Linked DNA regions of Homo sapiens: region 1 is linked to region 2. The links come from fine-mapping of genetic effects on gene expression. A gene starts in region 2. The other region holds a variant in brackets. All regions are shown on one strand. Distances are between the middles of the regions. Region 1 has its middle 25 kb from the start of SYT13. Region 2 holds the start of LINC02716 (long intergenic non-protein coding RNA 2716).

Region 1 (11,214 bases), 460 kb before region 2:
CTCAATTTCAGCTCTGTATTCCTCAGAGATGGGAAGAGGATGTCTTTATCTAGCACTCTAGGTGTTTGATGTGGGAGCAGAGTTCCAAATGGGAATTCAGGCCACCATATTGACCAGAGCTGTCTCTAATCACTTCTCCTTGAGCAGCCAAAGTGATTTTTTAAATTTATTTCTTTTTTTAAATTGAGGCATGATTCATAAACAGTAAAATTCACCCTTTGGGGCATGCGGTTCTGTAAGTTTCAATAAATGCATACTACCAGGTAGCTCCTACCACAGTCGAGATAGAGAACAGCTCCAAAATATTCCCCAGTGCCCCTTTGTAATCACCTCTTCCCCACAGCCTCAGCCCCTGGAAACCACTGGTCTGTTTTCTGCCTTTTCCACAATGTCACATGAATGGAGTCAAACAGAAGGAAGCCCTGTGCATCCCATTCCTTTCATCTAGCAAAATGTGTGAGATATATTCATGTTGTTGTCTATAGCAGGAGACTGATTTTTTATTGTATTTTATTTGCTCTATGTGTATGTACCCAGATTGTTTATCTATTCACCAATCCAAGGACATCTGGATTGCTTCCAGTGCTTAGTGATTATGAACAAAACAATAACGTCCAGGATTTTGTGTGAACATAAGCTTTCACTCCTGCTGGGTCATATGCATGTTTAACTTTATAAGAAAGTGTCGAGCTGTTTTCCAGAGTGGCTGTAGTGTTTTGCATTCCCACCATCAGTGGAGGAGTGTTCTAGGTGCTCTGCAGCCTGGTCAGTGCTTGGTGTTGTCAACAGAGTGAACTTCTAAAGATGCAATCTGCTTATGTCAGAATGATTCAATGCCTTTTTATTGCTCTCAGGCTGAGGCTCTTTCGGTGTGCCAGGAGGCCCGGCACAGTCTTGCTATGCCCCTTTGTGACTATGCCCCAGCCCCATCACCCCAACCCCAGGACCCCCAGGATCCTGGGGGAAAGTGCGAGGTTTCTCCTCCCCTCTGACTCTGCTCTTTGCTGGGTAGCCCCCTTCTCAACCTACAAACTTCAATGCTTCTCCCTCCACCAACTTTCCTGACTCCAAACTCCAGCTGGGTGACTTGCATCTTCCCTTAGCACCCTGTGGTTTTCCTTCACAGCACTTGTCACAACCTGGAGACACATACTTCTCTCTGTGATCATGAGATTAAGGCCCATCTCCTCCTCCAGCTTGTCATCTCGATGATGGCAGGAACCAAGTCCATTTCATTCACTATTGTTTCTCTAGTTTCTTTAGCACATAGTGAGTAGTCAATAAATACTTGTCATAATCTTGAATAAATGACTGGTGGAGATTCTCTGCAGCTGGGATGGTCCAGGGAAGACTTCAGGCTTTCCATGATCTCTGGCAGGTGTCTGAACTATGGTGTAGGACAAGTTTTCCACAGTCCCCAGGACTCTGGTCAGCCATTGTCACACCCATCAAACACCCACATCAGATAAAGGGTGTGAGCTCAACGCCACTTCCTGGAGCCCCCATGCTACTTGAGGTGGGGCCAGTCATCCAGGAGCACCCTCTCCATTTCCTTCCTGGTGGGCCCAGTCTCTGGTATTTACAAGTAGCTCTGCTTGTTTTCTATCATGCTTTGTATTTTATTTTATGTTCCTCCTTTTTAAATTATGAAATATTTTGACATAGCAAAAAAACAGTAGAGAGGATAATATTTAATACAGTGGGTATCTGGGCTCCCACCACCCAGAATAAGAGAGAAACCATTATAGATATAGCTTAAAGCCCCTCCTCTCTGCCATCTTTTTCTTCTCTCTAGAGGTAACCTGGGAAGTCTGGAATTTGCCGGTTATTTATTTTCATGTGTGTTTTGTGTTTGAAACACATATGTGTGTTTTTATATACTGTGTTTTTCATATTTTTAAATTCTATATATTAATTGTATGCATTCTTTATTGTATGCAGTCTTTCCAATTTTATGTTGGTGGGATTTATCCATGTCATGTCTATAGCTCTAGTTCACTCACTCCCAGTGGTATATGGTATGTTATTAATATTATTCAGATATACCATAAGTAGTTATTTGTTCTCCTGCTGATGGGTAATAAAAGTTGTTTCCAATTTTTACTGTCATAAACAATGTTGAATTGAGTATTCTTATATGTCCTCTTTCTGTGCCAGAGTTTGCTCTAGAATGTACCCAGGAGTGGATGGCAAGGTTGTAAGAGATGCACACCTTAAGTTATCATAAACCAAGCTGCACCCTCTAGCATTGAAAGAGAGAGTTTTCACTGTTCCTTATCTTTACCATCACTTGGTGTTATCTGACTTTTAACTTTTGCCAATAATGGGGGTAAAATAAAAACTCATAATGAGATTGATTTGTATTTCCCTAATTATGAAGGATACTGATCATCTTTTCATAGATACGTTTCATATTGCTGCTTCTGAGAAACGTCTTTTTATGGTTTTTGCCAAATTTTACTATCTTTTTCTTCTTTGCTTCGTAGAAATTCTTTATATAACACTGATCCTAGTTCTTTGTCATTTATATGGAAGATTTCCTCTCCCAATTAGTGACTCATGTCTTCTCATTGTTTATGGTGACTTTTGCTACACAAACACTTTTAGTGTGAAGACAATCAAATCTATCCATTTTTTCTTTCATAGCTGTGCTTTTTGTGTTTTAAACAATTCTTCCCTATTTGAAATAATAAAAATATTCTATATTTTATTCTGAAAGTTTTAAACTTCTGTTTTTCACATTAAGTCATTAATCTGTGTGGGAATTTTTTCTGTGTTCGGTTGGAGGTAGGGAGCTAATTTTACTTTTTCCATAATCAGTCTTCTGTACGTGGTTGATTGACGAGTCCATCCTTTTCACATTGATTTGCAATGCCATCTTTGGCAAGTATAAAGTTTCCTTATTCATGTGGGAATATAATATTTTCATCTATGTTTCTGGACTCCCTATTCTGTTCCGTTAATCCATATGTCCTTCCTTGTTCTCGATCACACTGGGTTTCTATTAAAATCCTAATACCTGCCAAGACAAGCTTCACTAACTGCAAAATTGTCTTGGCTATTCTTGCTTTTTCATATCTCTATATATTTAGAATCCATTTGTCAAGTTCAATAAAAAGCATCTTGGGGATTTGGACTGGAATTGAATTTAGAAATTGATTTGGGGTGAATTGATATATTTATGTGGTTAAATCTTCCCGACTATGAACACAGCTTATCTCTCCATCACTGTGGCCTTCTTGAATGTCTTTCAATTAAGTTTTATTGTTTGCTACCTAAAGATCTTGTATATCTTTTGTAGTCTTTAATTATTTTGTTGTTATATTTAAATGAAATCTTTTAAAAATTTCCTTTACTAGCTCTATGATGCTAGAATGTAAAAAGTGAATTTTATCTTTGTTTATTTGTCTTTTATTTTTTTCTTTTGTTTTGAGATGGAATCTCACTCTGTCGCCCAGGCTGGAGTGCAGTGGCACAATCTTGGCTCACTGCAACCTCTGCCTCCCAGGTTCAAGCGATTCTCCCTGCCTCAGCCTTACCACGTCCAGCTAATTTTTGTATTTTTAGTAGAGACGGAGTTTCACCATGTTGACTAGGCTGGTCTCGAACTCCTGACCTCAAGTGTTCCACCCCCCTCGGCCTCCCAAAGTATTGGGATTAGAAGCATGAGCCACCTCGCCAGCCTTATCTTTGCTTATTTATTTTATATGCAGCAACCTTGCAAACTCTCTTAGTTATAATTTGTCTGTAGATACTCTTGGGTCTTCCATGTGGATAATTTTTTCTTTCTGTTCCATCTTTACTCATTTCTTTTTCTTTTATTACTGTGCTACCAGGAGCTCCAAATCAATATTGAATAAAAGCAGAAATAGCAGATATTCTCAATGGAGTCAATGTTTTTTAAAGGAGAATCTATTTGGATTTTCTATATCTTTTTCCTCTTCTTTATATTTTATTTTACAAATTTTCTCTAATTGGTGTGCATTACTTTTATTTTCCCTTTTATTTTCTTTATTATTATTATTATTATTATTTTATTATACTTTAAATTCAAGGGTACATGTGCACAACGTGCAGGTTTGTTAAATATGTATACATGTGCCATGGTGGTTTGCTGCACCCATTAACTCATCATTTACATTAGGTATATCTCCTAATGCTGTCCCTCCCCCTTCACCCCACCCCACGACAGGCCCTGGTGTGTGATGTTCCCCACCCTGTGTCCAAGTGTTCTCATTGTTCAATTCCCACCTATGAGTGAGAACATACAGTGTTTGGTTTTTTGTCCCTGTGATAGTTTGCTGAGAATGATGGTTTCCAGCTTCATTCACGTCCCTACAAAGGACATGAACCCATCTTTTTTTATAGCTGCATAGTATTCCATGGTGCATATGTGCCACATTTTCTTAATCCTGTCTATCATTGATGGACATTTGGGTTGGTTCCAAGTCTTTGCTATTGTGAATAGGGCCGCAATAAACATACGGGTGCAAGTGTCTTTATAGCAGCATGATTTATAATCCTTTGGGTGTATACCCAGTACTGGGATGGCTGGGTCAAATGGTATTTCTAGTTCTAGATCCTTGAGGAATTGCCACACTGTCTTCCACAAATGGTTGAACCAGTTTACAGTCCTACTAACAGTGTAAAAGTGTTCCTATTTCTCCACATCCTCTCCAGCACCTGTTGTTTCCTGACTTTTTAATGATCACCGTTCTAACTGGTGTGAGATGGTATCTCATTGTGGTTTTGATTTGCATTTCTCTGATGGCCAGTGATGATGAGCATTTTTTCATGTGTCTGTCCCTTTAATTTTCTTTAGAAAAAAATTTTAAGCTCCTAGAAAAGTAGAAAGTGTACCTCCTCACCTATATTCACCAACCTTTAATATTTTGCCATGTTGGTTCTGTCTCTCTCTTTTTAAATACACACACTTTCCTCTCATCAAATCATTCAAAATAGTCTACAATTATCATGATATTCACCCCTAAACACTTCAGTATGCTTCCCCTACGAATGGAGGCATTTCCCTACACAAGCTCATTATCATTACCATATCTAGGCCAATAATTCAATTACTTTATCCAACATATGGTCTATTTACAAATTTCCTCAGTTATCTTCCAAACATATGCCCTTATGTGTCTTTGATCTCCTCCAATTTAGAACAGTTTCCCCCATCTTCTTTTGTGTTTGATTTAGCTTCTTTCAAATAAACATTATATTAAGAATTTCATCCATACTAACAACATGTAACAAGAGTTCATTTATTCTCATTGCAGTATAATATTTTATGGTGTGTGAACCCATTACAATTTATTTACTTGTTCTACTCTTGGTGAGCAGTTGGGTAATCTCTAGTATTTTGTTGTTATTAATAGTGCTGATAATAATATTCTTGTGTACATCTCCTGGTGAACACATGTATTTACCCAAATGGGGCATCATCACTGGGTTATTGGATGGGCACATGTTCGGCTTTATTAGAGACAGAGCTTTTCAAAGTATTTCTACTGATGTATTCTCCCACTAGCAATGTATAAATGTTCTGTTTGCTCCAATGGGTATTGAATCTTTTAAATTCTGCCCATTCTGGTAGGTTAGTTATGGTTTCTTATTGTGCTTTTATTTTGCATTCCCTAGTAATGAATAAAAGTCAAATATCTGGCCTGGCACAATGGCTCACGCCTATAATCCCAGCACTTTGGGAGGCCAAAGTGGGTGGATTGCCTGAGCCCGGGAGTTTAAGACCAGCCTGAGCAACACAGCAAAATCCCGACTCTACAAAATAGGCCAAAAAGTAGCTGGGCATGGTGG[C/T]GCATGCCTGTAGTTCCAGCTACTCAGGAGGCTGAGGTGGGAGAATTGCTTGAGCTGGGGAGGCAGCTGTTGCAATGAGCCGAGATCACACACCATTGTACTCCAGCCAGGATTACAGAGCAAGAACCTGTCTCAAAAAAAAAAAAAAAAAAAAATAGTTGAACACCTTTTCACATGTCTATGATCAAGTTGGGAAAAATTTACATCTTTGCAATATTTAGGTCTTCTTTAATCTATTCCAATAATATTTTACATTTTTAAGTGATGAGGTCTTGCCCAACTTTCATTAAGTTTATCCCTAGATGTTTGATGGTCCATGGTACAGTAAAAGGATTCATTTTAAAATTTTTGTTTTCTATGTATTGTTGCTGGAACATAGAAATACAATTAAGTTTTTATGTTAGCTTTGAATCTAGTGGCCTTGCTAAACTTGCTTAGAAATTCCAATAGTTTCTCTGTAGATTCTTTGGAATTCTCTACATACACAATCACATCTTTTACAAATAATGGCAGTTTTATTTCTTTCCTCATACTAACACTATTTATTTCATTTACTTGCCTTATGCCATTGGTTAGAACCTTCAATATGATGTTAATAAGTGTCATTATGGTAGCCATCCTTGTCTTATTCCCAATCTCAGAGGGAAAAGATTTTAACAATTCAGCATTAAGTATAATGTTTGCTGTAGGGTTTTTTTGTAGCTGTTCTTTATCAAATTTAGGCAGTTCCCTTCCAGTCCTAGCTTGCTAAGAGTTTTCTTTTTTATTATAAATGGTTATTAATTTTTGTCAAATGAATTTTAATGTGTCAAAGTAATCATATGGTTTTTTCTCCTTTCATCTATCAATGTGGTGATCTACATTGATTAACTTTTTGTGTTGTGATGTGATATTCCTTTATATATTGCTGTACTTGATCTCCTACTACTTGAAGATTTTTGTATAAATATTTACAAAAAGAATTATCTATAATTTTTCCCTATAATGTTCTTTTCAAGTTCTGATATGCAAGCTATACTGGTCTCATCAAATGAGTTGGGAAGTATCCTCTCTTTTTCCACTCTTTGGAAGAATTTATGCAAATTTGTATTATTTCTTCCTTAAATGTACGGAAGAATTCTCCAGTGAAGCCATTTGAGCCCAAAATTTTCTTTGTGGGAATATTTTTATAAACAGATTCAATTTACTTAACAGGTGTAAGAAAATTTAAATTTTCTATATTTTCCTTCTTCATTTGCCAAGTCTATTTCTTTTTAAAAGAAAGTTGTCCATTTTATCAAAATTTTTAAATTTTTTAAAATAAAATTGTTTATAATGTCTTCTTCTTATACACTTCTGTCTAAGATCTGTAGTGACGTCCTCCTTATATTAATAATTTGAGTTTTATCTCTTTGTTCTTGGTCAGTATTGACAGAGGTTTATTTTACTAATCTTTTCAAAGAACTAACTTTAGGCTTTATTGATTTGTCTCTATTGCATGCTTTGTATTGCACTGATTTCTGATTTTTATCTTTATTATTTTCCTCTTTCTACTTTCATTGGATTTAATTAGCTTAGGATTTTTTTGATCTTATTGAGATAAGAATTTAAACTATTGACTTCTTTTTTTTTTATTTCTAATATATGTACCAAAGACTGTAAGTTTTTCCCTAAGCAATGCTTTGGCTTTATCCCACATATTTTATATGTCTTATCTTTATTGTCATTCATTTCAAATTGTTTTCTAATTTCTATTGTAATTTCTTTTTTTGACATATGGATTTTTAAACATACATTGTTTAACTTCCAGGCAGTTGGTAATCTTCTAGTTGTCTTTTTGATATTAATTGCTAGCTTAATTCTAGTTATCAGAGAATATACTCTGAATGCTTCTAATCTGCTGAATTCTTTTTTGAGACTTTTAAAAATAGACTGGCATGTGGTAAATTTGGTAAACATGCCATGTGCACTTGAAAAATGTGTGGATTTTGTCACTGTGATACTGTGATTTACAATAAGAAATATCTATTTCAGTCTTTGTCCCTGGTTCTTGGCACAGAACTCCTAAAACCCTTGTAATTTCCTGAGCAGTAGGAGTGCCAGGAGCCTCTTTTGCTCTACTATTTGGTCTTTTACCCTGGTTCCTAACACACAGCTTTTAATTCCCTGGAATTTGTGAAGTCTTTTGCATCTTTTGCTCTAATGACTTGTCTCTTGCTGGTTCCTGAATGAGAGCTGGTCACCAGAGATAGAAGCCATGATTAGAAGCTTGGAGCTTCCAGCCCCACCTCACATTCTCTGGGATTGGGAGAGGGGCTGGAGATTGAGTTAATAACCCATCATGCCCAAGTGATGAAGCCTCCATCACAATCTCTGCACTCTGGGGTTTGGAGAGCTTCTAAATAAGCACATCCATGTGGCAAGAGAGTGGTGCGTGCCAGCTCCCTGGGGACAGAGGCTCCTGCACTTGGGATCCTTCCAGACTTCATCCTTTGTATCCCTTCAACTGTCTGTTCATTAGAAATCTTTATCATATCCATTAATAATATAATAAACCAGCAAATGTGTTTCTCTGACTTCTGCGAGTTGGTCTTGAAAAGTAATTGAACCTGAGAAGGGGGTCTGGGAAACCTCCAGTTTGTAGCCAAGTTGAACAGAAGTTGTGGGTAACCTACCACTCGGAAGTGATATCTGAAGTGAGGGGCAGTCTTGTGAAACTGAGCCCTTCACCTGTGGGATCTCACTGTAACTCCAGGTAGATGGTGTCAGAATCTGGTTACATTGTAGGACACCGTGTTGGTGTTCACTGGAGAACCGGTTAGTGTGTGGGGAAAACCCCAAGCACATTTTGGTAACCAGAAGTGCTTTGTGCTGTGTTAAAAGTAGAAACAAAAGTTTAGTTTTTTTCTATCTCCTACACAGTTGTCAGTTGCAGTGGTGTTTTTTGTTTTGTTTTGTTTTTGAGACAGGACCTCACTCCACTGCCAAGGCTGGAGTGCGTGGCATGATCTCAGCTCACTGCAACTTCTGCTTCCCAGGCTCAAGCAATCCTCCCTCCTCAGTCTCCTGAGTAGCTGGAACTACAGGTGAGTGCCACCATGACTGGCTAATATTTTTTTTTTGTAGAGATGTGTTCTCATTATGTTGTCCAGGCTGGCCTCCAACTCCTGAGCTCAAGTGATCCTCCCACTTCGGCTTCCTGAAGTGCTGGGATTACAGGCATGAGCCACCACACCTGGCAATTTGCAATGTTGTGTGTGTGTGTGTGTGTGTGTGTGTGTGTGTGTGAATATATATTAATTGGGTCAAGTTTAAGGTTTTTTTGCATATCTATATTCTGCATGTTTTTTGTCTGATTGTTCTATCAGCAATTAAATAAGTCACATTAAAGTCCCCTGCTATGATTGAGGCTTTGCATCTTTCTTTTATTTTTTAAGTCTTACCAATTTGTGCTTTAAATATTTTCACATTATGATACTGGGGGCATGCAGATTTAGAACTGTGATATCTTTCTGGTGCATTTACACACCTGCATCCTTATTTATTTCCCCTCTCTCTAGTAATGCTTCTTTCTGCAAAGTACACTTTGTCTGACATGTAGTCTTAGATATATGGTTACCTCAGTGTTTATTTGGTTTGTATTTGCAAAATGTATCCTTTTCAATTCATTTAAGGTTTCTTCTTATGTTTAAAGTATATCCTAGATCACAAACTCCCTTTTAAAATTCTGGCTTCATGTGAGTATCTTTAGGGTGACCTCCCTACTGCCCTGGTCCCAGGCTCTATGTCCTGTCTTGGACACCTCCTGCGCTGTTAAAACCCAATTGGCCACCAGGGATGAAAAGATGTCTTTAGAGCAAACATCAACTCCAGCAATTTCTTGCCCTTCTAGTCAGCATCTCTTGTCATTTCTGCCCTATGATTGTTTCCCTGACTTTCATGCCAGCTCAATCGGGCTTTTGAAAAATATTTTACTTCTACTCTCTTAAGCATTTTTAGATCTTTCTGTATGGAGAAGAGTTTCTTGGAAAACTCATTCCAAAATATTTCTGAAAATGGAAGCCTCTTCTTTGTCCGTTCCCCAGCTGGGCTGTTTGTCATATTCTTATCAATTTATATTGATAAGATCTCTTTCTATTAGGGATATTACCCATTTACTCATCATTTGTTTTATACTATGTCCTCCTCGAATAGACTTTGTCTTTTGACTTTGTTTGTGGTGTCATTTTTAGAGAGAAAATGTTAATACTTATGAAATTAAATCTGTCCATTTTTTCTTTATGGCTTGTGTGTCATACCTTACCTAATAAGGTATTTCCCACTTCTACATTTTATCTTTTTAGAGTTTTAGTTGTTATATTAAGTCTTTAAAACATCTGAAAATTGTTAATGTGCACACTGTATAGAAAAGATCTAACTTTATTCAATCCAGATGCAGAGCCAATTTAGTAAATAAACGGCTCAACCCACTGAGCTGAAGCATCACCTTTGTTATGATTACATTCTCACATATTTTAGGTCTATTTTTGGACTCTCTTTCTTGGGCCAAAGATATATTTGTGTATTTTGGTGTCAAAATTAGACTTATTTCTCTTCTAATACCTTTAGACCAAAGTTTTAATTATTTTCTGGGGCAAGTTTCTCCTCACTACTACTTTTCAAAAATTTTCTTGGCAATTCTTGAATATTTATTCTTCCATCTGAATTTTAAAATTATTTTTCCTATTCCAAGGAGAATTATATCATATCGTTACATTTTTACATTATACTTTATGCTAATTTAAGAAGGATTTTTCTTTTCATTTTCTCTTTTAAAAATATTTTTTCTTTTTGAGATGGAGTCTCGCTCTTGTAGCGCAGGCTGGAGAGCAGTGGCAAGATCTCGGCTCACTGCAACCTCAACCTCCCGGGTTCAAGCGATTTGCCTGCCTCAGCCTCCTGAGTAGCTGGGACTACAGGCGCCCGCCACTATGCCCAGCTATTTTTTTTTTTTCACATTTTTAGTAGAGACGAGGTTTCACCATGTTGTCCAGGCTAGTCTCAAACTCCTGACCTCAAGTGATCCACCTGCTTTGGCCTCCCAAAGTGCTGGAATTACAGACATGAGCCACCGCGCCCAGTCTAAAAATATTTTTTCTATGCACATGTAGTTGAAATTGCAGAATGAATATGCTTCTTTGCAAGCAATATGCTAAGTCCTCCGTATATGATTTTCTTTAATTCTCACAACAAGCTCTAGGAAGGGATTATTGATATCTTCATTGTCGGTTAAGGAAGAGAAGGAAGCAAAATGAAATATCGTGCCCAAGATCACAAGTTCAGAGCAGCCAGCCGTTTTATCCCTGGTCTTCCATGTGCCATGCCCATAAGGTCATGTGGGAATCTGAGAACCCATTTCCTATTATTTTGGAACCCTTC
Region 2 (10,196 bases):
ACACCAAGTGCTTCTGGCAACCACTGTAAGCTGGGCGAGGTATGGAGCCGATTCTCCCCCAGAAGCTCCAGAAGGAACCAACCTTGCCCCACCTTGTCTGAATTCTAGCCTCAAAAAATGTGAGAGAATAGGCTGGGCACAGTGGCTCATGCCTGTAATCCCAGCATTTTGGGAGGCTGAAGCAGGAAGATCTCTTGAGGTCAGGAGTTCGAGACCAGCCTGGCCAACATGGTGAAACCCTGTCTCTACTGAAAATACAAAAATTAGCCGGGCATGGTGGTGGGAGCCTGTAATCCCAGCTACTCAGGAGGCTAAGGCAGGAGAATCGCTTGAACCCGGGAGGCGGAGGTTGCAGTGAGCTGAGATCAATCTACTGCACTCCAGTCTGGGCGACAAAGCAAGACTTCATCTAAAAAAAAAAAAAAGTGAGAGAATAAATGTTTGTTGCTTTAAGCCCCCACGTTTGTGATGCTGTTTTACAGCAGCAATAGGGAACTCCTGCGTCTTCCCAGCCAGCATCCCCAACACCTCTCCTCAGGCCAAGCCCTATTTCTCTTGAGGCTCTGTGCTGTTCAGTGACACTAACCTGCCCCCCAGCCAGCCAGCCTTGGCCCATCAGCACATTCTGTCTCCAGCCTCTGAGATTGGTGCAGGGACGGTATGTGACCTGACCTGAGGCCATGAGACCTGAGACATTTGCTGCCAGCTCCTGAGAAAGAAGCTTCCTCGCTTCCAGAACAAACACTCTCTCTCCTGTTAGACCCGAACAAGGACGCCATCGTGCTCCAATGAGGGTCTGAGAATACATGGATAAGCAGACTGTTTCTCCCACTATACACTCACAGTGGGCTTCTTACACCAGATGGGTGTTTGGGGAGGCGTTCCCACATAGTAAGCAAGCAATCAATTACGCAGCAGACACCAGTTCGGTGTCCTCTAATTCAGTTCACTTCCCCACCTGGAGATAGCGTCAGGTTCCACAGGCTAAGGACTCAGTCCCCAAGATGCTCCCCTTCTCCCGATGCCAATCACAAGTCCCAGAGTATTTTAGCTGTGCTTCTGACCAACTGACTATAATTGAGGTTCCCACAATCCCCTCATTGGTTGGATTAATTTGCTAGAGCAGCTCACAGAACTCAGGGAAACACGTTGACTCACTTATTATAAAGGATACCACAGAGGACACAGATGGGCAATGCATAGGGCAAGGTATGGGGGAGCAGAGCGCCATCCTCCAGGAGCCCCGTGTGTCCAGCTGTCCAGAAGCTCTCCAGACCCTGTCCTTCAGGGTTTTTATGGAGGCTTCATTACACAGGCGTGATTGATTAAGCCATCGGCCATTGGTGATCAACGTAACTTCCAGCCCCTCTCCCCTCTAAGAGAGAATGGGAGTGGGGCTGAAAGCCCCAGTCCTCTAATCCTGCCTTGAACTTTCTGGAGTAGCCCCCATCCTCAAGCTACCTAGGGGCTGCCAGCCAACTGTCAACTCATTAGCATACAAAAAGACACTTACCACTTTGGAGATTCCATAGATTTTAGGAGTAACATGCCAGGAAATGTGGACAACAACTCAATATGTATTTTACGATATCACAAAGGGGAGCCAGCCTCCAGATGAAACCAGCAAAATGGGACCCAGAGTGGAGAGACAAGGACACTGGTCCAGGGGCTACTGATTCAAGCCTCACCTGAAACCCACATCACCTCCAGACTTCTGAGCTATGTGAGCCGCTAATTCCTTCTTGGGTTTAAGCCAGCGAAGTTTCAGCTCTCTACTCCTTGAGACTGAAAGAGTTGACTAACTCCTGTGAGGCTGGATCCATGAAAACAAAGGCTGTCATCATGATCAGGGCTCTCATCCTATCTCAGCTCCATTTCCCTCTGGGTTGGTTTTGCCCTTAGGCAGGCCCTGCTTTCCTAGTGACAAGATAACACCTAAAATCCAAATTCAGCTTAGCAATCCCCCTGGAAAGAAAGTATGTCTTTTATACCAGTCAGGTGTCTGCTGCACCAATGCCATGCAACAAGCACTCTGAAAATCTCAGTTGCTTATAACAACCATTCCTTTCATACTCATGGGTCTGCAGGTTAGTTGGGGGGTTGTTAATATCAGAGTTAGGCTGGACTCCAGTCTCTGGTTAGGTTCAATTTGCCCCACAGTCTCCATCCTGGACTCCAGATGAAGGTGCCATGGTCGCCTGGGTGTACCTTCCTTTCTCATGGTGGGCAGGAGCTCTAGAGGGGCAAGCGGAAACACAAGATACTTCTTTAAGGCCTAGCTTGGAACCCACACATCATCACTTCTACCGACATTCCATTGACCAAAGCAAGTCAGTGGCTGAGCTCACCATGGATGGTGTGGGGAAGAATATTCACCCACAGTGAACCATGCAAGGGAGGGAGGGAATGAAGAAGCCTCAGCAAAACTCCATCAAACACGTCTTCCTCAACAGTGCCTCAAAGATCTTGGAACTGACTCATTGGCCTGGCCTGGGGTCAATGCCTGAGGGAGGTAGGAGTAAGGGTACAGCTAGGGGTCTCCCATATGGGAAGAAGGGTTATTTCCCAAATGGAAGTCAAGGTGTTGCTGACACAAGAAAGGGCAATGGATCCCACATAGGCAATGAATAAATAATTACATAAACCAGCACTCAGCAAACGGCAACGTGAAAATAAATCACCTGAGATGCTATTACAATGCAGATTCTGAGAGCCAGGCATGGTGGCTCCGACTGTAGTCCCAGCTACTAGGGAGGCTGAGGCTGGAGGATCTCTCAAGCCCAGGAGTTCGAGGCTGCAGCAAGCCACAATCGCACCACTGCACTCCAGCCTGGAAGACAGAGCAAAATCTCATCTCTTTAAAGAAAAAAAATTCATTTAATAAAAAATAATGCAGCTTCTGATTCAGTAGGTCCAGGGTGGGGCCTGAGATGCTGCATTTCTTTTTTTTTTTTTTTTTTTTTGAGACGGAGTCTTGCTCTGTCACGCAGGCTGGAGTACAGTGGCGTGATCTCGGCTCAGTGCAACCTCCGCCTCCCAGGTTCAGCAATTCTCCTACCTCAGCCTCCTGAGTAGCTGGGATTACAGGCACGCACCACCATGCCCAGCTAATTTTTAGAGACGGGGTTTCACCATGTTGGTCAGGCTGGTCTCAAACTCCTGATCTCATGATCCACACGCCTTGGCCTCCCAAAGTGCTGGGATTACAAGCGTGAGCCACCGAGCCCAGCTGAGATGCTGCACGTCTAAACAGTCCCAGATGATGCTAGCAAGGACCAGTAGCAATGAGCAAGACTGAAATTGGGAGAGTCTCTCAGCCTTCTGATGCCACATTCTCATTTACAAAATGATAATTCCACCTGCCACACAGACTTTTCTCAGCCAGGAAGATGGTGCCCTCGGGGGGATAAGGTGATGCGACATTTGTGCTGTCACTCACCTCCTGCCTGCCCCCTGCACCTCGAGGCCTCCCTCAGCCCCCAGGAAAGGACTCACAGCCCAGCCAGCAAGGAGACAGGAGGAAGATATCACAAAGTGAGTGCAGCTTCTGTTAACTGCCTTAAGCTGCTCCCTGCAATAATGTTGGTGTAATCCATAAGATTCAATTATGGTTATCAGACAATTAGGCACACCACAGCGAGGTTATTGCATAATTAATGCTCAGTCCCCATCTCAGCCTCTGAGAGTGACACAGGTTACAAGATTCACCTGCCCCGCATCTGGGAGAGGAGCAGGGGCACCCAGGATGGGGAATGACCTCCCTGTGGGCTCAGAGGAGGATGTTCTTAGGACCCCAGAGGCATGGCAAAGGGACAGTGTGTGGCTGAAAGAGCTTGAGTCAGTGTGTGCCCAGGGCCCTCACGCCTGCCATTGTGTTTAGGACTTGGGCTTTAATCTCTGGAGCGAGATTCAAATCCTGCCTCAACTACTGATTGGCTATATGGCATTAAGCACTCGCCTTACATTTTTAAAGCCTCCATCTCCTTGTCTTTTAAAGAAGGGAATTGATGATGTTATGAAAACTGGATGAGAGAGTTTGCATATTGGTTAGATGGTTCCTGCAGTACTATTTTCATTATTTCCCTCTCTGAGCCTCAGTGTCTTCATCTGTAAAATGGGAATAATTAGCCTCACCTTGCCTAGGCTTGAAAGATCAGCCGGTAGTTTGAGACCTGCCTGGGCAATATAGCAAGACCCTGTTCACCACAAAAAAGGAAAAAAAAAAGGATGAAAGATCAGTTTGTGAGTCAAGTAAGACACACATGTGAACGGGATGTGTGGAGTGCTTTGCTAACGCGCCATTGTCTTAGTTACTATGTGCCTGGTTTTCTGCTCAACCCTCCAGGGTACGACTTTGTACAAGTCCCCAGGTCTCAACAGGACAGTGGGTGATCAGCCCACCTGAGAAGTGAAACTCATGATTTGGGTGAGTAGACTAGAGGAGAATCACTTCTTTCTTTCTTTTTTTTTAGACGGAGTCTCGCTGTGTCACCCAGGGATCTCAGCTCACTGCAACCTCTGCCTCACCGGTTCCAGTGATTCTCCTGCCTCAGCCCCCCGAGTAGCTGGGATTACAGGCACACGCCACCACACCTGGCTAATTTGTTATTATTAGTAGAAACGGGGTTTCACCATGTTAGCCAGGCTGGTCTTGAACTCTTGACCTCAGACGATCCACCTGCCTCAGCCTCCCAAAGTGCTGGGATTACAGGCATGAGCCACCATGCCCGGCCTGAGAATCATTTCTTGAGCTATGATCTGTAACATTCAAATGAGCCTCAACGGACACAAAACAGAAAAATCATCAAAAATGTCGGTGAAAAGTTCAGGTGGGAGAACTCAGGTGATGGTGCAGACAGAAGCAAGTAGGGGAGAAAGCTGGCTTCAGGGAGAGTGGTTAGGCCTTTGTGAGAAAGACTGGGGACTTCTCATATCATCCTCTGTGTCCCAGTTCCCAAAACACACACGCACATGGGCACATGCATGCAGGCACACAAAAACAAGCCCATACACCAGACGAAAAAATACAGATGCAGGTACACACACATGGACATGGACATGTGTGTGCCTGTGCCCATATAAACAAACATTAGTGCACACACACACTCACACACACACAGGCTCGGGCAGTATGTGCTCACACACAACCATACACACAGATACGCACAGAGGTACATTCACACACAGACCAACACACACAGGCACACAGATGCATGCACGCATGCACGTGCGCGCACACACACACACACGTGCACCCACCCTCAGTGATAACCTTCCAATCCACTGGCCTCTCCGAAATTAGCACAGACCATTTTCCCACGACCCTTTCTCGCTGAGCGTGTGATTCCAAAACTGTCCACAAGAAGGTGCTCGGGAGCCAGAATTCAGGCGTTCCCGGCCCGCGGACGCTTAGAGAGGGGAGCTTCGGAGTTATGGGGGGACCCACCCTTCCATTTAATAACTGAGAAAGCCACGGGAGGGGACTTGCTGGGCTCACAGCCAGTGATCCCTGCCCTGTTTCCTTATGGGGACTGCGGTCAGAAATGGGGAGTGGGGCAGAAACTGTCACTGTCACGGTCCTGTTTAGAGAGGAAGGTCGGAGAAACCAGTGCCGTGGAAGGCTCTGGGGCGTTGACAGGCGCTGTCCCCAGCTCACCGGCTCTATGACCCTGGGTAAGTTACCTGGCTTCTCTGTTCCTCAGTTTTCTCGTCTTCCCTGACCCAGGCTTTCCCGACTCCTCTAGGGGCCCCTTCCCCTCTCCATGAACACCTTCAGATCTCGGACTGTTTTCTCCACTCAAGTGGCATCTCAGCTATCCCCTCCCGGGTTAGGCCTCCCTGGCCCCTATTTAACGGTGTCCCCACCCCCACCACTATCTTGTTTGTACCAACACTTGCTGCCTGACAATGCACACTTGTTCATTTGTTCACGTTTATTTTGTCTTCTCCAGAAGAATGGAAACTTCGTCAGAGCAGGGACGTGAGGGTGAACTGCTCACCCGGGCACCGCTGGCGACCGGAACCCAGCTCCCTCCGGGCTCCGGGAGAGGCGGCCTCAGCTGTGTGCTGGTGCTGCCCTCCAGCGGCGCTGGGTCCCCATGGCACCTGGCTTTCTCCTGCTCCCCAGGGGCCTTTTCTTCTCCCGCCCACCTGTCACCAGCCGCCAGGGCAAGTCTCTGTGTGACTCTAGGGTGAAGGTGGAGGGACCTTGCCTCCGAGGATTCATCCCACCCGGATTCCGATGAGTGAGGGACCCTCTCTGGCACCTGGTGTTTGAATGGCCAGCCTCACAGTTAATAAAGACAAGTTTGGTATCAGCTGTGGGATCCGTCCAGAAAAAGACACCTTTGGGGCAGAAATATAATGGTGCCTGTCTCGACATAGTCTAATAAGGAAAGAAAGACAAGCCAGTCCAACGGTCCCATTTTACACATGAGGTCACTTCATCCCCACCTAGGACAGGAGGGTACAACGGCCTGGCCTAAGATAACCCTAGAATATGGTCACTCATTCTTCCACCCACTGAGAACCTCAGGGCAGTAGAGTTTTATGCAAAGCATGTGGTCCTGAAAAACTTGCATAATTCAAAGCGTGCATAATTTCTGACTAATTTTGCCAGAGAAATGAATGCAAAGTAGAAAGGATAGGTTGCATACATTACTCCAATTGTGGCATATTTTTGCCTTAATGCTGCTTTTTATTTCCCTGGCATTATCGCTAATATTTCATAACGCACTCTCTGCTAAATTAACAGTGCAGCATTTCCTGCCGGTGGTTTGGCCTTCTTCATAACGTTTTATCACATCTCACTTCCTTTCCAATGTTATCGATTTTCAGGTGCGTTTTTCAGCACCACCACTTAAAGAACACTTGGATGACATTGTTACAGGATATGGGTAAAATATTTAAAGTTATAATAACTGTGAACATTGAGAAAATGGCACACCAGTCACCAGAATCTCCTGCAGAAATTAGAAATTCAGAGGCATGTAAACAACAGTGCATGCATATAGAAAGCAGGTATTTCTATTTAATAACCAAAGCAACGTCGCCATGTGGCAGGTTTACAGTCCTCATTTAACAGCTCACTTAGTTCCTCCGACTCAAGGAAACTGCAATTCTTGACAGGTTTTTTTTTAACTGAGGGGCTTGGCATTATTTCCAGCTTAGTGCATAAACATGTATTAGCATTTTTATATTGCACCTTGCCAAAGTCACAGTTTAGACTCCCATAAACAGTGACTTCACCCTAAATGGTCACCCTAAATGGTTAAGGCTGTGTCCTTAACCCCAGAAGGGTGGAAATGTATGACTCCACCTAGTCATCTCAGATACGGATTTCAGAAATCTCAGCCACCCACCTCATACTTACACAGGGACCTTTTTGGAGGCAGCATCATCTGAGGCCGCTCTTGCCCAATTTGGCTGGCCCCACCTCCTCCCCAACGTCATCTTCTCTTGCAGTCTAGAGAGGGGGGCTACTCCCCCAATATAGCATCCATATTTAGATCCATGTTGGAGGGTGGGTAGAAAGGGGAGGTAGGATGAGGGAAAATTGAGTCTCAGTTTCACACATTTGTAAGATCGTCAGACTTTCCACATTGCCAAGAAACTCGTCAGCACAACCGCTGTGAATTGGCTTCTTGGCCTTCGTCTGCCCAGAATTGCTTCCAGAATGGCTCCTTCAGCTTGGCCTGAGCTTGGCCCCAGAAAGAGTGCCACGGGCCCTAGGAAGGAGGAAAAGTGGGGCATTCAGGGCAGGCTCTGAACCCACTTGGATTCCAGTCCTGATTCCATTTGCATGTGACCTTGAGCAAGTCTCTATGCAAGGCACTTCACCTTTCTGGGCCTCAGTTTCCACCTCTGTCAAATGGGGATAATAATACCATCTACTTCCCAGAATTGGTGCCAGAATGAAAAGCAGTCCCTGCTGTGATAGTGTCTAGAACAGAGTAAGTGCCCAATAAATATTCCTTCGCTCTTGTTGCAGTTAGAAAAGCGACTGGATGAGGCGTACATTTACTGGTACCCTGGGATGTATAAGGGCCAGTGTCCGGGTGAGGCGATCCTGCCCCTCGGAGAATTTATGGTCCAACTTTGGAGAGTGAACCTGCCCTCCCACTAATTCAAGAATTCACCAGCCAGGAGAACTGCATGTGGAATTGCCCGGTCCAGCCCTGACTTTGCGCAAGTGTCCATCAAGTCTCCTTCTGCCTCTGGGCTGCCTCTGAGACTTGAGGGGGAGTAAACAGGAGCCTAGGGGTCTCTCCACCCTCCAGGTGCCCCATCAGGCCGGCACCTCCCCACCAGCCCACCCCTCCCCTTGCAGCAGCAAATCTGCAAATGTGCCTTGCAAGCATGTCCAGTGGGCCAGAAGCCACACTCATCCTCCCCACCCCTTCAGAGGACAGCAGAGGTGCCTGGCCCAAAGGCGGTGGTTGGAGCCTGGGCTTCCTGCCTGGGGTGGGGTGGAGAGGGATCTGCCTTCTCTTCTGGGCCCCTGCCCCCCAGGTTTTTCTTCCTCGATACTCACGTTCCTTTCCCTGGACAATCCCTTGCTCTATGAGGGCCTCAGCTTTCCCCTCTGAAAAATGGGCAGCCTGGACTTCTCCAGCTCCTCCAGCTAAGACATTCATCTCCCTATCTCCACACCAGCCTCGCCGCCAACACCCCGGTCCCTCTCTCTCTCCTCTGCTGTTGTGGGGGCCTGTCCCTGGGGTCACTGAGGCTACTGCTGGCTGGGCTCCCAAGCACCAGAGAAGGACTCCACAGAACAATAGCAGAAGGAAGGGGGCCATTCTTCAGGAGGAGAGAATGAAATGGCCTAGCTCAGCCATGCCTGCCCTAGGTCCAAAGCCCCCAGCTCCATTCCTGCCTCTTCTGCCATGTTCCCATGTTTCTACATATGCATGTCTCCCACCAGACAAGGTGGTCCTGAGAGCAGGAGACACCCAGGCTATCCTCGCTGTATGCCTAGCACCTGGGTGCTGGGACCTGTTTCCTGGTCGGACAGAATGGGCGCCCACCCAGCAGGTGCAAGGATGGTAATGTTTTCCCGGCCTGTAGCCTGAATTCCAAGTGTCCACTCAGGGCCAAACCATGCAGTCAGAAAAGGATTCTCACTGGGCAAGTGGCTCAGGCCTATAATCCCAACACTTTGGGAGGCCAAGGCAGGTGGATCACTTGAGGCCAGGAGTTCGAGACCAGCCTGACCAACATGGCAAAACCCCCTCTCTACTAAAAATACAAAAATTAGCCGGGCATGGTGGCAGGCACTTGTAGTCCCAGCTACTCGGGAGGCTGAGGCAGGAGAATCGCTTGAACCCAGGAGGTGTAATTTGCAGTGACCCGAGATCGCGCCACTGCGCTCCAGCTTGGGTGACAGAGCAAGAATCTCTCTCAAAAAACAAAGCAAAAAGAAAGGACTCTCACAGTGAATAACCTAAGTCTACAAAAATAAAAGAAAGGACTCTACCTCAGGCCCACACTTCCCTCCCCTCTCTGCCTCCCTTCCCCTCTCCCCCAAGCCCCTCTTCTGCTTGCCTCCAGCCTCCCACCTAGAGACTCAGTCATTTCTGGCTCTTTCTGACCCTGCTTTAGAATGAGAAAAAATATGGGGAAGCAGGGGCTTTTGATCATAAGGACAGGGGAAAGGAGATGGGATCCTTATCATGGCCTAGCTTCCGGCAAGATGTCTAAAACTCACATAGAATTGTCTCCTAGGGGAAATCACCCACCTGCATAATTTTCATATCCAATAATACTATAAGAGTGTCTATGTCCTTCCTACCTTGAGTTACATTTCTAAAAATCTTTATCATGTGAGTCACGAAAGGTGCCAGCTGCCAATAAGTGTGCATGGGGAGAGGACAGATAGCTGGGAGTAGAGATTTATGTTGCCTGATAATACTAAAGAATTGCTATACTCAGTTTCATCAAACCCAGGTCCTAATGTCAGCCTGAAATTCTTCCTCCTCCAGGAAGCCCTTCTGGACTGGGAGGGAAAGTCTATGATACAAGAAACAGTGTCTGATGTTTCCCAGATCCACCTTTTTTTCTCCTGTACCACGCCCACCACCTAGACAGCCCTTTCTCCATAGGTGTCCAAATGCCCCGAGTCTGTCAGTGCCAGGCTTGCATGCCATTATTTCCCAGATGAAAGTGACTACCCCCCTGTTAGGACCCAAGCACTTCCT

What was found. PIP is the estimated chance that this variant, and not a neighbour inherited with it, causes the effect. A credible set is the group of variants that fine-mapping cannot tell apart.
Region 1: its variant is the best candidate, but not a certain one, in a credible set for the expression of LINC02716 in hippocampus (GTEx, PIP 0.88).

The regions. Positions count from the first base shown.
Region 1 is chr11:45,305,503-45,316,716 of GRCh38, forward strand. No RefSeq gene overlaps it. Among named protein-coding and RNA genes, the nearest start is that of SYT13, 25 kb to the left of the region's middle. The variant C/T (reference allele first, on the strand shown) is at 5,818.
Region 2 is chr11:45,766,042-45,776,237 of GRCh38, forward strand. LINC02716 (long intergenic non-protein coding RNA 2716) reads left to right here and starts at 5,391. Exons shown (of 2, transcript NR_027134.1): 1 at 5,391-5,673; 2 at 5,952-6,317. RefSeq lists an enhancer at 5,083-5,584.